2 separate regions of the Homo sapiens genome follow, and region 2 is reported to be linked to region 1. The links are microRNA targets in miRTarBase. Many come from high-throughput screens and were not tested one by one. Region 1 holds a microRNA gene; the other region holds the end of a gene's coding sequence.
Evidence for each region. The annotated mature microRNA hsa-miR-589-3p reads UCAGAACAAAUGCCGGUUCCCAGA and lies in region 1 at 2,242-2,265, shown strand. An mRNA with a match to its seed (bases 2 to 7 or 8) in the 3' UTR can be bound and repressed. Matches are read on the target gene's strand: a 7mer-m8 pairs with bases 2 to 8, a 7mer-A1 pairs with bases 2 to 7 and ends in A, and an 8mer does both.

Region 1 (5,177 bases):
AAAAAAAAAAAAAAAAAAGTAAAAAGAAAAAAGAAAAAAAATTACCCAAAAGGTAGTGAAGGCCTTGAGCCTCAGTACTACCAGGGACTGGGTGGGGGAGAAAGTGGAGGCAGGGCTTAGATGAGTGAGCTGGTGTCTCTGTGAGTCCTTAGCTGGTGGGGTGGGTTGCGGGTACATGAAGTCATGCTCCAGCCTAAGGGGCACGTGGGCACGTGTCATTGTCCCCAGAATAGTTAGCATTCACCTTGTGCCTTTGCTGAGAGCCATGCACTGAGCCCATCCTCCCTGCCATAATCTGCTGCGATTGCAGCCTTGATCATTCCCATTTCCCAGATGAGGCTGTGGGAGCTCAGGGGGAGCTGAGTCTCTCGCAAACACCGGTGCTTGACCTTGGCCCTGGAGCCATGCAGAGTAGAGATAAGGGCGCCCCTTGTAAATCTCCCCTCTCCCGCAGAAGGCATGGCAGGAAGTGGCCGGGTCTGCTCGGGAGCAGCCGAGCTGGAGGCTCACACCCTGGAGTCCCCCGGCCATGCAGCCAGCTTGGCGCCACCCTCCCTCTCGACCTCCTCCCACTGCAGACCTGTTAGTGTTGGGTTGAGAAGCGCAGGATCAAACCCAGGACTTTCAAATGGCAGAGCAGATTGCTAGAAGCCTCTGTATTTCCTGTCTGGTGGAGTCACCAGGCCCTGGATCGGCCGCTTTGATTCTCAGCTCGAGCCACTGCGAGGCTCCGTGCGTGGGGAGCGGGGTGGTTATTCATGCTCTGACCCAGGCATCCTGGAGAACCAGGACGGGCGACTGCTTTGAGAACCAGACGGGCGACTTTTCAGAATCTCCCTGCTTTAGAAATTTGACGCAAAATGCATGTAAAATTTGGGCTTTCCCACTTTTTTTTTTTAAAAATGGTCTCATTCTGTCTCCCAGACCGGAGTGCAGTGGCATGATCACAGCTCACTGCAGCCTCGACCTTCTCTGGCTCAGGTGATCCTCCCACCTCAGCCTCCCGAGTAGCTGGGACTATAGGCACATGCGACCATGCCCGGCTAGTTTTTTTTTTTTTTTTTTTTTGAGACAGAGTCTCACTCTGTCACCCAGGCTTGAGTACAATGGCATGATCTCAGCTCACTGCAACCTCTGCCTCCTGGATTCAAGCGATTCTCCTGTCTCAGCCTCCAGAGTAGCTGGGATTACAGGTGCCCACCACCATACTCGGCTAATTTTTTTTTTGTATTTTTAGTAGAGACGGGGTTTCACCATGTTGGCCAGGCTGGTCTCGAACTCCTGACCTCAGGTGATCCGCCCACCTCGGCCTCCCAAAGTGGTGGGATTACAGGCGTAAGCCACTGTGCCCGGCCGCCTGGCTAGTTTTTTGTATTTTTTGTAGAGACGGGGTCTTGCTGTGTTGCCCGGGCTGGTCTTGAACTCCTGGGCTCAAGTGATCCTCTTGCCTGGGCCGCCCAAAGGGCTGGGATCACAGGTGTGAGCCACTGTGCCCGGTCCGGAGAGTCTGTTAAGTGTGGCCTCCTAGTTGATGGGCCTAAGCCAAGCCCTGAGTCCAGGCTGAGGTCTGGCCTGGGAGAGTTGCTTTGGCGTCCTCAGCTCATAGGTGGCCTTTAGCCACCTATGGATCCAGGTGAGCCCACGGATTGGGCTGGGGCACACGTGACAAGGATTGGCCAGGAAGAGGAAGAAGAATGTGGAAGGGAGACCGAGCAGAGGCTGTCAGCAAGGGAGGCACTGGCCGGAGGGAGGGGGTGTTCCGGAAGCAAGAGGCAGAGGTGACGGCAGCCACCGCGGGTGGAGGGGACCTTTGGGCTCATGTGACCTCTGCCAGGTGCTTTTCATGGGTGTACAGGTCTTGACCCCTTTGATATTCTCAACAACCTCTGAGTGTCGACACAGTTGTACCCACTTAATGGATGAAGAAAGTAAGGCCCAGAGAGTGCATGAACTTGCCTAGGTCACATGGCTGCTTGTCTCCGGCCTCCCGAGGTCAGCGTGATTTCATGGTCCCCGATGGCCTCCGGAGTCTGGGACGGAATCCCCGTGGCCAAGGGCCTTCCTCAGGAGCAGGGCCATGGAGAAGGCGCGGAGAGGCCTGCGGGTTCTGTGGGTTTTGTGGGTTTTGTGGGCCAGCCTGAGAGACCGACCCTGCTCATAATGCCATCTCTGTGGACAAACTCCAGCCTGTGCCCAGCAGCCCCTGAGAACCACGTCTGCTCTGAGCTGGGTACTGCCTGTTCAGAACAAATGCCGGTTCCCAGACGCTGCCAGCTGGCCCCGTTCCTCTGGATTCCTGCCTTCTGCGGCAAGGGAGCCCGGACGCTGCAGTGGAAGGAGCAGGTGGCACTCGCTTGCCCGTGGGCAGGAGCTGTGCAGAGGAAACGGCGCTGGGATCCCTGGAGGCTGGCACGATGCTCCGAGGCCGCATCCTGGGGCGGCCGGAGTCTCTTTGGTGGCAGAGCTTGGAATCCCACGCCAGCCACCTGCTGCCACTGGCAGCCCCCACACCGTGACCCCCAGCTTTGTGCTTGCTGGGGCTCCTGGCAGGGAGGGGGTGGTGCAGGAAGGAGTCGCTCTGGCTGGGACTTGGACACACCTCAGTAGTAAGGGGATTACAAATTGGGCAGAAAAGACACCTTCTTTCCCTAGACCAGCTAAGCCCTGCTTGCGGTGGAGGGCGGGGGAGCGTGTCACCCTGAGTCACCCGGGCTGCTGTGAGCGTGACCAGGGCAGCGTCTGGGCAGAAGCGGGCCATCCTTTTCAGAGCCAGGCCCCGGAGCCACCCTAGGGACACCTCGGAGGCCTGGGTGCTGCTCTCACGGCCCGTGCAGTGGGTGGCCAGATGGGAGCCCCCGCACTGTGAGCTCAGCACCTTTCATGCCCACAGAGTCACCAGGAGACCCAGGTGCCCCCTCAGGGAGCAGAATGGGGAGGCTGGATCCTCACTCAAAGGTGAGGCCCGGCGCAGTGGGAGCCTTTTCCTCGTCCCCATCCTCCCTGCAGACGCTGCCGGTCACTCGAGTCAGGTCAGCTCTGCCACCGTCCTGGGTGCCGTGCCCCAGGCGGCGTGCTGTGGGAGCCTAGGAAGCTTTAGACGTGCCAGGCCCGCTGCCTGACCAGTCACTCCCGTGGGCCTGCCACATCCTGAACACCTGTGACAGGTGACTTCCTCCGGGGCGGAAGAATGTGGATGTGGTTATCTCGTGGAAAAAAGGTTTTTTTTCCACGCTCTGCAGACTTGGTTTTTAACCCCAGAGGCTCGGGGCGATCTGGGGCGGGTAGCACGGAGCCGCATCGCCACCTAGTGACCACACGACGGCACCGTCCTTGCCCAACGCCCCGTTTCCATCTCCTGCTGTCTGGAGCCTCCTGCTTTTGCTTTGGAGAGAAATCCAGAGGTGACTTTGCAGCTCAGCAGGTGCGGCGCCTGCACCGTCTTTTTTACCCCTTCCCGTTTCCCACCTTCCGGTCTGCAAAGGGTTGTTTACTTTAGGATTTTTTTAGGGAGAGGTGGTATTTAAAATATACGTAATGAAAACATTTTATTACTATCTTTAAATAAAAACAATCTGAATAGCTTAACAAAACAAATATAGAAAAATAAAGACAATTTGGATGTTTTATTTTATTATTTATTTAATTTTATTTATTTATTTTTTTGTGTGAGACAGAGTCTCGCTCTGTCACCTAGGCTGGAGTGCAGTGGTGTGATCTCAGCTCACTGCATCCTCTGCCTCCAAGCAATTCTCCTGCCTTCGCCTCCCCAGTAGCTGGGATAATGGGCATGCCCCGCCACGCCCAGCTAATTTTTTTTTTTTTTTTTGAGATGGAGTTTCACTCTTGTTGCCCAGGCTGGAGTGCAATGGTGCCATCTTGGCTCACCGCAACCTCTGCCTCCCAGGTAGAAACGATTTTCCTGCCTCAGCCTCCCGAGTAGCTGGGATTACAGGTGTGTGCCACCACGACCAGCTAATTTTGTATTTTTAGTAGAGATGGGGTTTTTCCATGTTGGTCAGGCTGGTCTCAAACTCCCGATTTCAGGTGATCTGCCCTCTTCGGCCTCCCAAAGTGCTGGGATTACAGGCATGAGCCACCGTGCCCGGCCTGCCTGGCTAATTTTTGTATTTTTAGTAGTGACAGGGTTTTGCCATGTTGGCCAGTGTCGAACTCCTGACCTCAGGTGATCCGCCTGCCTCAGCCTCCCAAGGTGCTGGGATTATAGACGTGAGCCACCGCACCTGGCTGAGAATTTCTGCTTAAATCAATTAAAAGAAAATTAACTACCAGGCATGGTGGCTCACGCCTATAATCCTAGCACTTTGGGAGGCTGAGGCAGGAGGATTGCTTGAGCTCAGGAGTTGGAGACCAGCCTGGGCAACATAGTGAGACCCCTGTCTCCACACACACACACGCACGCACGCACGCACGCACACACACACAAAAGTAAATAACCAGTCTCTCATGAGCCACACTTCCTTTATTCTTTTAAAAAAAAAATTTTGGCCAGGTGCAGTGGCCCACGCCTGTAATCCCAGCACTTTGGGAGGCTGAGGCGGGTGGAGCAAGTGGTCAGGAGATTGAGACCATCCTGGCTAACACGGTGAAACCCCATCTCTACTAAAAATACAAAAAATTAGCTGGGTGCGGTGGCAGGCGCCTGTAGTCCCAGCTACTCGGGAGGCTGAGGCAGGAGAATGGCGTGAACCCGGGAGCTTGCAATGAGCTGAGATCACGCCACTGCACTCCAGCCTGGGCAACAGATCGAGACTGTCTTGCTCTGTCATCCAGCTTGGAGTGCAGTGGCACGATCCTAGCTCACTGCAGCCTCGAAGTCCTGGGCTCAAGCGATCCTCCCACCTCAGCTTCCCGAGTAGCTGGGAGTACAGGTGCGTGCCACCATGGCTGGATAATTTTTGTACTTTTTGTAGAGCTGGGCTCTCACTATGTCGCCCAGGCTCTTCTCAAACTCCTGGGCTCAAGTGATCCTCCTGCCTTGGCCTCCTGAAGGGCTGGGATTATAAGTGTGAGCCACCATGCCCGCCGTGACTTGGTCTTTTTGTGTCACCTACCAGGGAAGAATCTCCATGCCTGTGGCGCCTTCTGCTGTGGCTGCCCTCAGCATCTGTGCTAGGATCCTGGGGCTGCCAGGACAATTGATCACAAACTGAGTGGCT
Region 2 (5,000 bases), not on the chromosome of region 1:
AAGCTGAAAAGAAGCTTCAAAACATTGATCACCCTCTCACAAAGTCATCCAGTAAGAGAGATCACCGGCGTTCTGTTGATTCCAGAAATACCCTCAATGATCTCCTGAAGCATCTGAATGACCCAAATAGTAACCCCAAAGCCATCATGGGAGACATCCAGATGGCACACCAGAACTTAATGCTGGATCCCATGGGATCGATGTCTGAGGTCCCACCTAAAGTCCCTAACCGGGAGGCATCGCTATACTCCCCTCCTTCAACTCTCCCCAGAAATAGCCCAACCAAGCGAGTGGATGTCCCCACCACTCCTGGAGTCCCAATGACTTCTCTGGAAAGACAAAGAGGTTATCACAAAAATTCCTCCCAGAGGCACTCTATATCTGCTATGCCTAAAAACTTAAACTCACCAAATGGTGTTTTGTTATCCAGACAGCCTAGTATGAACCGTGGAGGATATATGCCCACCCCCACTGGGGCGAAGGTGGACTATATTCAGGGAACACCAGTGAGTGTTCATCTGCAGCCTTCCCTCTCCAGACAGAGCAGCTACACCAGTAATGGCACTCTTCCTAGGACGGGACTAAAGAGGACGCCGTCCTTAAAACCTGACGTGCCACCAAAGCCTTCCTTTGTTCCTCAAACCCCATCTGTCAGACCACTGAACAAATACACATACTAGGCCTCAAGTGTGCTATTCCCATGTGGCTTTATCCTGTCCGTGTTGTTGAGAGGATGATGTTGTAAGGGTACCTTAAAACAAGAGACTCGCTTGTATTTTAAGAGAACCAAGTGGCCAAAGAAACTCTTTCTAACTTTGGCAACATCAGAACTTGCCACATGTAGCTACTGCAGCAAGGCTTCTGTGTACTTGCCTGAAAACAAAGGAAGGTGCTGGTCATTCCATTTCTTTTGTTTGAAGCTAAAGAGATGTGTAGCTCACAGGGGCTACCTTACCAGTATAAAGAGCTGATAACAGTACTCAGAAGAATCTGTGAACAAATACTTGAAAATGGGTTCAATGTAGACTGCCATTATGTGTGGTCTTCCCATTAAATGTGAACATTTTAATATGTATGCATTCACCTTGCCTCTTGCACAAATGTCAAAAAAAAGATGGTAATATCTCAAAGAAATGAACTTGTAGATTACCAAGCAGTTTGCTAAAAATTCAATCTTTGACCCAAGCTGTAGCATTTTTTTTTCATGTGTGGCATCTTTTTCATGCCACCAACAAACTTGTTGTGTGTGTGCGTGTGTGTGTGTGTGTGTGTGTGTGTGTGTGTGTTCTGTACCCACTAGGATTTGTTTAGGTGCCCATTGCATCTTTTTGTGCTATGGAGTTGTTTACATTAAGCATGACCGAACGAGAGACAATACTATTTCCCACAGGAGTCCATTGGGTTCAGCTTTGAAAGAGGAATAGAATCGAGGCTCCTTTGACCATCAAAATGATGAACTTTACTTATGTGGTACCCAATGCCAGAATGTAAGAGTTGCAAGTGATTTTGTGCTGCTATTCATTAAAACTTGTATTCCAGTCTTGCCAGCTTAAGGAGATCAAGATATTAAGAGGTATCCTTGATTTATTTTCCAGTATTCAGTAGTAAAATTTTCCTGTCCACTGTGAATCAAAGCCTGAGTCACTCTATTTAACCTTGGACACACTAATAAGGTTTTATTTTGATTGTGTTCGTTTCCCCCCCCCCAATAGTAAAATTTCTCCTCCTTTAACTCCTCCTACCCCCCAAGGTAAGAAACAAAAAACAAACAAACAAACAAAAATAGAAGACAAAAGAAAGACATATGAAAGGAATTGTAATTGGCTTAACAGAAACAGTCTGTAAAAACCTAACAGTGGTGCAATCATGTTGTCTGTGTTGTGTTATGTGAGAATTTTCTCCTAAGTCATGCAGGTAATGACAATATACTGTAAATACCACATGTGAGTTTACCTGAATCTGTGCATTTTGTGCCTTATTCATGAGAATGATAGAAGTACTAAAATCTGTCAAGTGTTTTCAGTATAGCACATTATTTACTGAGTGCCAGTTGTAAATGTTTTTCAACCAGCACCTAAAAAGACTCTTTTCAAAAAATCACAGAAACAACCTAGGACAATTATTTGTTACATAATCCGACCTCATAGCAGCATTACATTCTTTGCCGTGATAAACATTCCACTCCTGCTTTCCTAAGGATGAAACAGTGATAATGTGAACTCAAATGAGGTTTCCTGGGTAATGTGACACCTGCAGAAACTATAGAGCGTCATTTATACGTAGTTTGGCAGAAACCACTTACGGCTGATGATGCGCAACCCTGCTGACTGTTTCAGTTAATATGCTGCACACCACACACTTGTTTAGTGAACCAAATCTAGAAAGTACCAAGGCAGAGGTATGCTCCTGCTGTAATCAGGCAAATGAGTTCAACTGGATTTCTTTTGACAATACTGTTGGTACCTATTACTTGGGGGAGGACATGTTGCAGAAGACCAGATCATTTTTATACAGAATGTGAAATACTGATACAGTTATTCTTTTTTTTAAAGAACATTGTTTTATAAAGAACGTGATTTCCAGTGATCTCTGGAAGCGCTAAAGCTAAAATTTCTGTTCTTGAAACACTTCAGCTTTGCAACTAAAATATTACAGATTAATAATAAATTAAACCAACCAATGATAAACACTACTCAGTCCACCAACAACAAACGTGTTTGAATTCACCTTACCAATATTAATCCCAGCGTGTGTAAAACAGAACAGTAACTCTATGTGACCCCAGATAACATTTTGTAACATTGTGCTTCCTTGTAGTTTGTAATGTGAGTTCAATCAGTATTTATGTTGAAATTTCTAACATTAAATCTAGTCTCTATCCTGTTAATTTAATTTTTAAATGCTTTATCCATTTGTGCAAAGGTAAACGCAGATTGTATCTTTTTTAATGGTACGGCATAAAAAGTAACCCTCAAGTGAAGTGTCTCTATACTGTTTTATAGAGTACTTTAACATGAATAGATACCTTGTAAACTTGTATTGTGGATGTGTAAATAATATGTACTTTGGGTTTTTAACACCGCATGTAAAGTCAAAATAAAATATACAAATCATTATATCCTGCCTCTTGATATTGAAGAGGTTTATAACATGTTATATTTTTAAAATATTTTTAAGTCAATCAACACCAGTAATAGTTGCTTTTAAAATCTGCCAAAATATTCTTATCTGGAACAGTTGCTCTCCAGTCATGATTACACTACCATTCTCTCCTTGGAAGGCTGACACTGGAGGTCAGAGCCCCTGAAAAAAATGAGAAACTGTTCAGAAAACCAGTTGAACTGTACTACGTCAACAGTCATATGCTTTAGGCAAACAGTAGTGGTTCACATTGTCCATAGATCTATCTAGTTCAACAGACATTTTTAAAATTCATGATTTGTTTTCCTGCGTGAAATTTTTCACGTAATAGTTCAAAATTATAACTGGCAAACAGGGTTCCCGTGAACATTTCTTGCTATTTGGTATAAGGAGTTTCTCAGTTCCCTTGTTTTAAACAAATAGAATAAATTAGGAGCTCTCTTCCCTAAATATTGAAATGAGAGGTAACAATATGATTCCATGGCTTGCTCTTAGCACGTAATGAGTTGGTGGCTGCTGTCATTGCTTCTCGTGGATGTTGACAGTGGCAGGCCACTTCTGAGAGAGACAACAGGGGTAGGCTGTAGCAATCCCTGCCCTCTTGTTTCTAGCTGCTACTCCTGGCCAAAGCCCATCTGCAGCTCCCATGTGGTCATGTTTTCTCAAGGAGCTTCAGCAGCATCTTTGCTGAACAGCAGAATGGCCATATTCCTGTCTCGAGTCTTATTCTCCTTGATAGTGTCATCTAATTAGGGGTGCTGCATTTCAGTGTCAATTTAGTGGTATCAGAAGTCCTTGTTTATTCCTATCATAGCATGCAATACTCCAGAGACATGAGGAAAAATTTGAAGGAATCTTTTTGTGAGAGAAGAAGACCAGGGGATGGCCTATTTGCCCCATTTCACAGCTCCTGGCACCACAGGTGGTGCCACCAGCCACAGAACCTGACCTTGGCCTTCCAAACTACCCTATCATTGGAAGGAAGTCTGCGTAAGTGCACACCATTATAGTGCTGGAGAAGAGGGTGGAAGGTGTCTCCCATCTTACTGACTTGCAGAAGTCAATTTGTAACTCAGATTTCGAACAAATGGATGAAAGAAGACACAAGGGAAATGCATCTCCAAGCTTGTCTCACTCTGTCGCCCAGGCTGGAGTGCAGTGGCACGATCTCGGCTCCCTGCAACCTCTGTATCCCGGGTTCAAGCAATTCTCCTGCCTCAGCCTCCTGAGTAGCGGGGATTACAGGCACAGGCACTCACCACCATGCCCAGCTAATTTTTGTATTTTTAGTAGAGAAGGGGTTTCACCATGTTGGCCAGGTTGGTCTCGAACTCCTAACCTCAGGTGGTCCACCTACCTCAGCCTTCCAAAGTGCTGGGATTACAGGCATAAGCCACCACACGCAGCCTCTTCCTAGGCTTCTTTAGCATTGCATTATCATTCATTTGCATTGCCTGTTTCCATTAAATTGGTGTTTATTATACCTACTGCCTGTTTACTAGTTTTTCTGAGTTCAACGATTTTTTTCTCTTCTAAAAAATGCACCTTTCTTTTCTCCCTTATAGAAGTTCTTAGCCTTATTCCATCATAGACATTTTTGATAATTTAATGAATGCTATGGACTGAAAGGCGCATTTCCCTTTCCTCTCCAGGACATTTACAGTCCCCTAAAATCACATCTATGAATCCTCAAGATAAATGCTCAGATCCCATTTGAGAGAAGTAGGGTAAGGGAACTTGGGACTTTTTTCAAAGGGAGCCCATAAAACCAGAGAGTAATGGGACAAATACAATAACCAGGACAAGGCACTGTGCTCTGGTTCCAGAAATGCCATCGACTAAGCACTTGGTTACCCTGG

Region 2: the mRNA of SEMA6D is a reported target of hsa-miR-589-3p. Seed matches in the 3' UTR shown: 7mer-m8 at 1,284-1,290.

The regions. Positions count from the first base shown.
Region 1 is chr7:5,492,922-5,498,098 of GRCh38, reverse strand. MIR589 (microRNA 589) reads left to right here and starts at 2,182; the gene lies at 2,182-2,280. The region is part of intron 3 of FBXL18 (F-box and leucine rich repeat protein 18); the gene reads left to right. RefSeq lists enhancers at 2,839-2,888, 2,959-3,038.
Region 2 is chr15:47,771,106-47,776,105 of GRCh38, forward strand. It overlaps SEMA6D (semaphorin 6D), which reads left to right. Exons shown (of 19, transcript NM_001358351.3): 19 at 1-3,123. The coding sequence ends at 680. Among named protein-coding and RNA genes, the nearest start is that of SEMA6D, 56 kb to the left of the region's middle.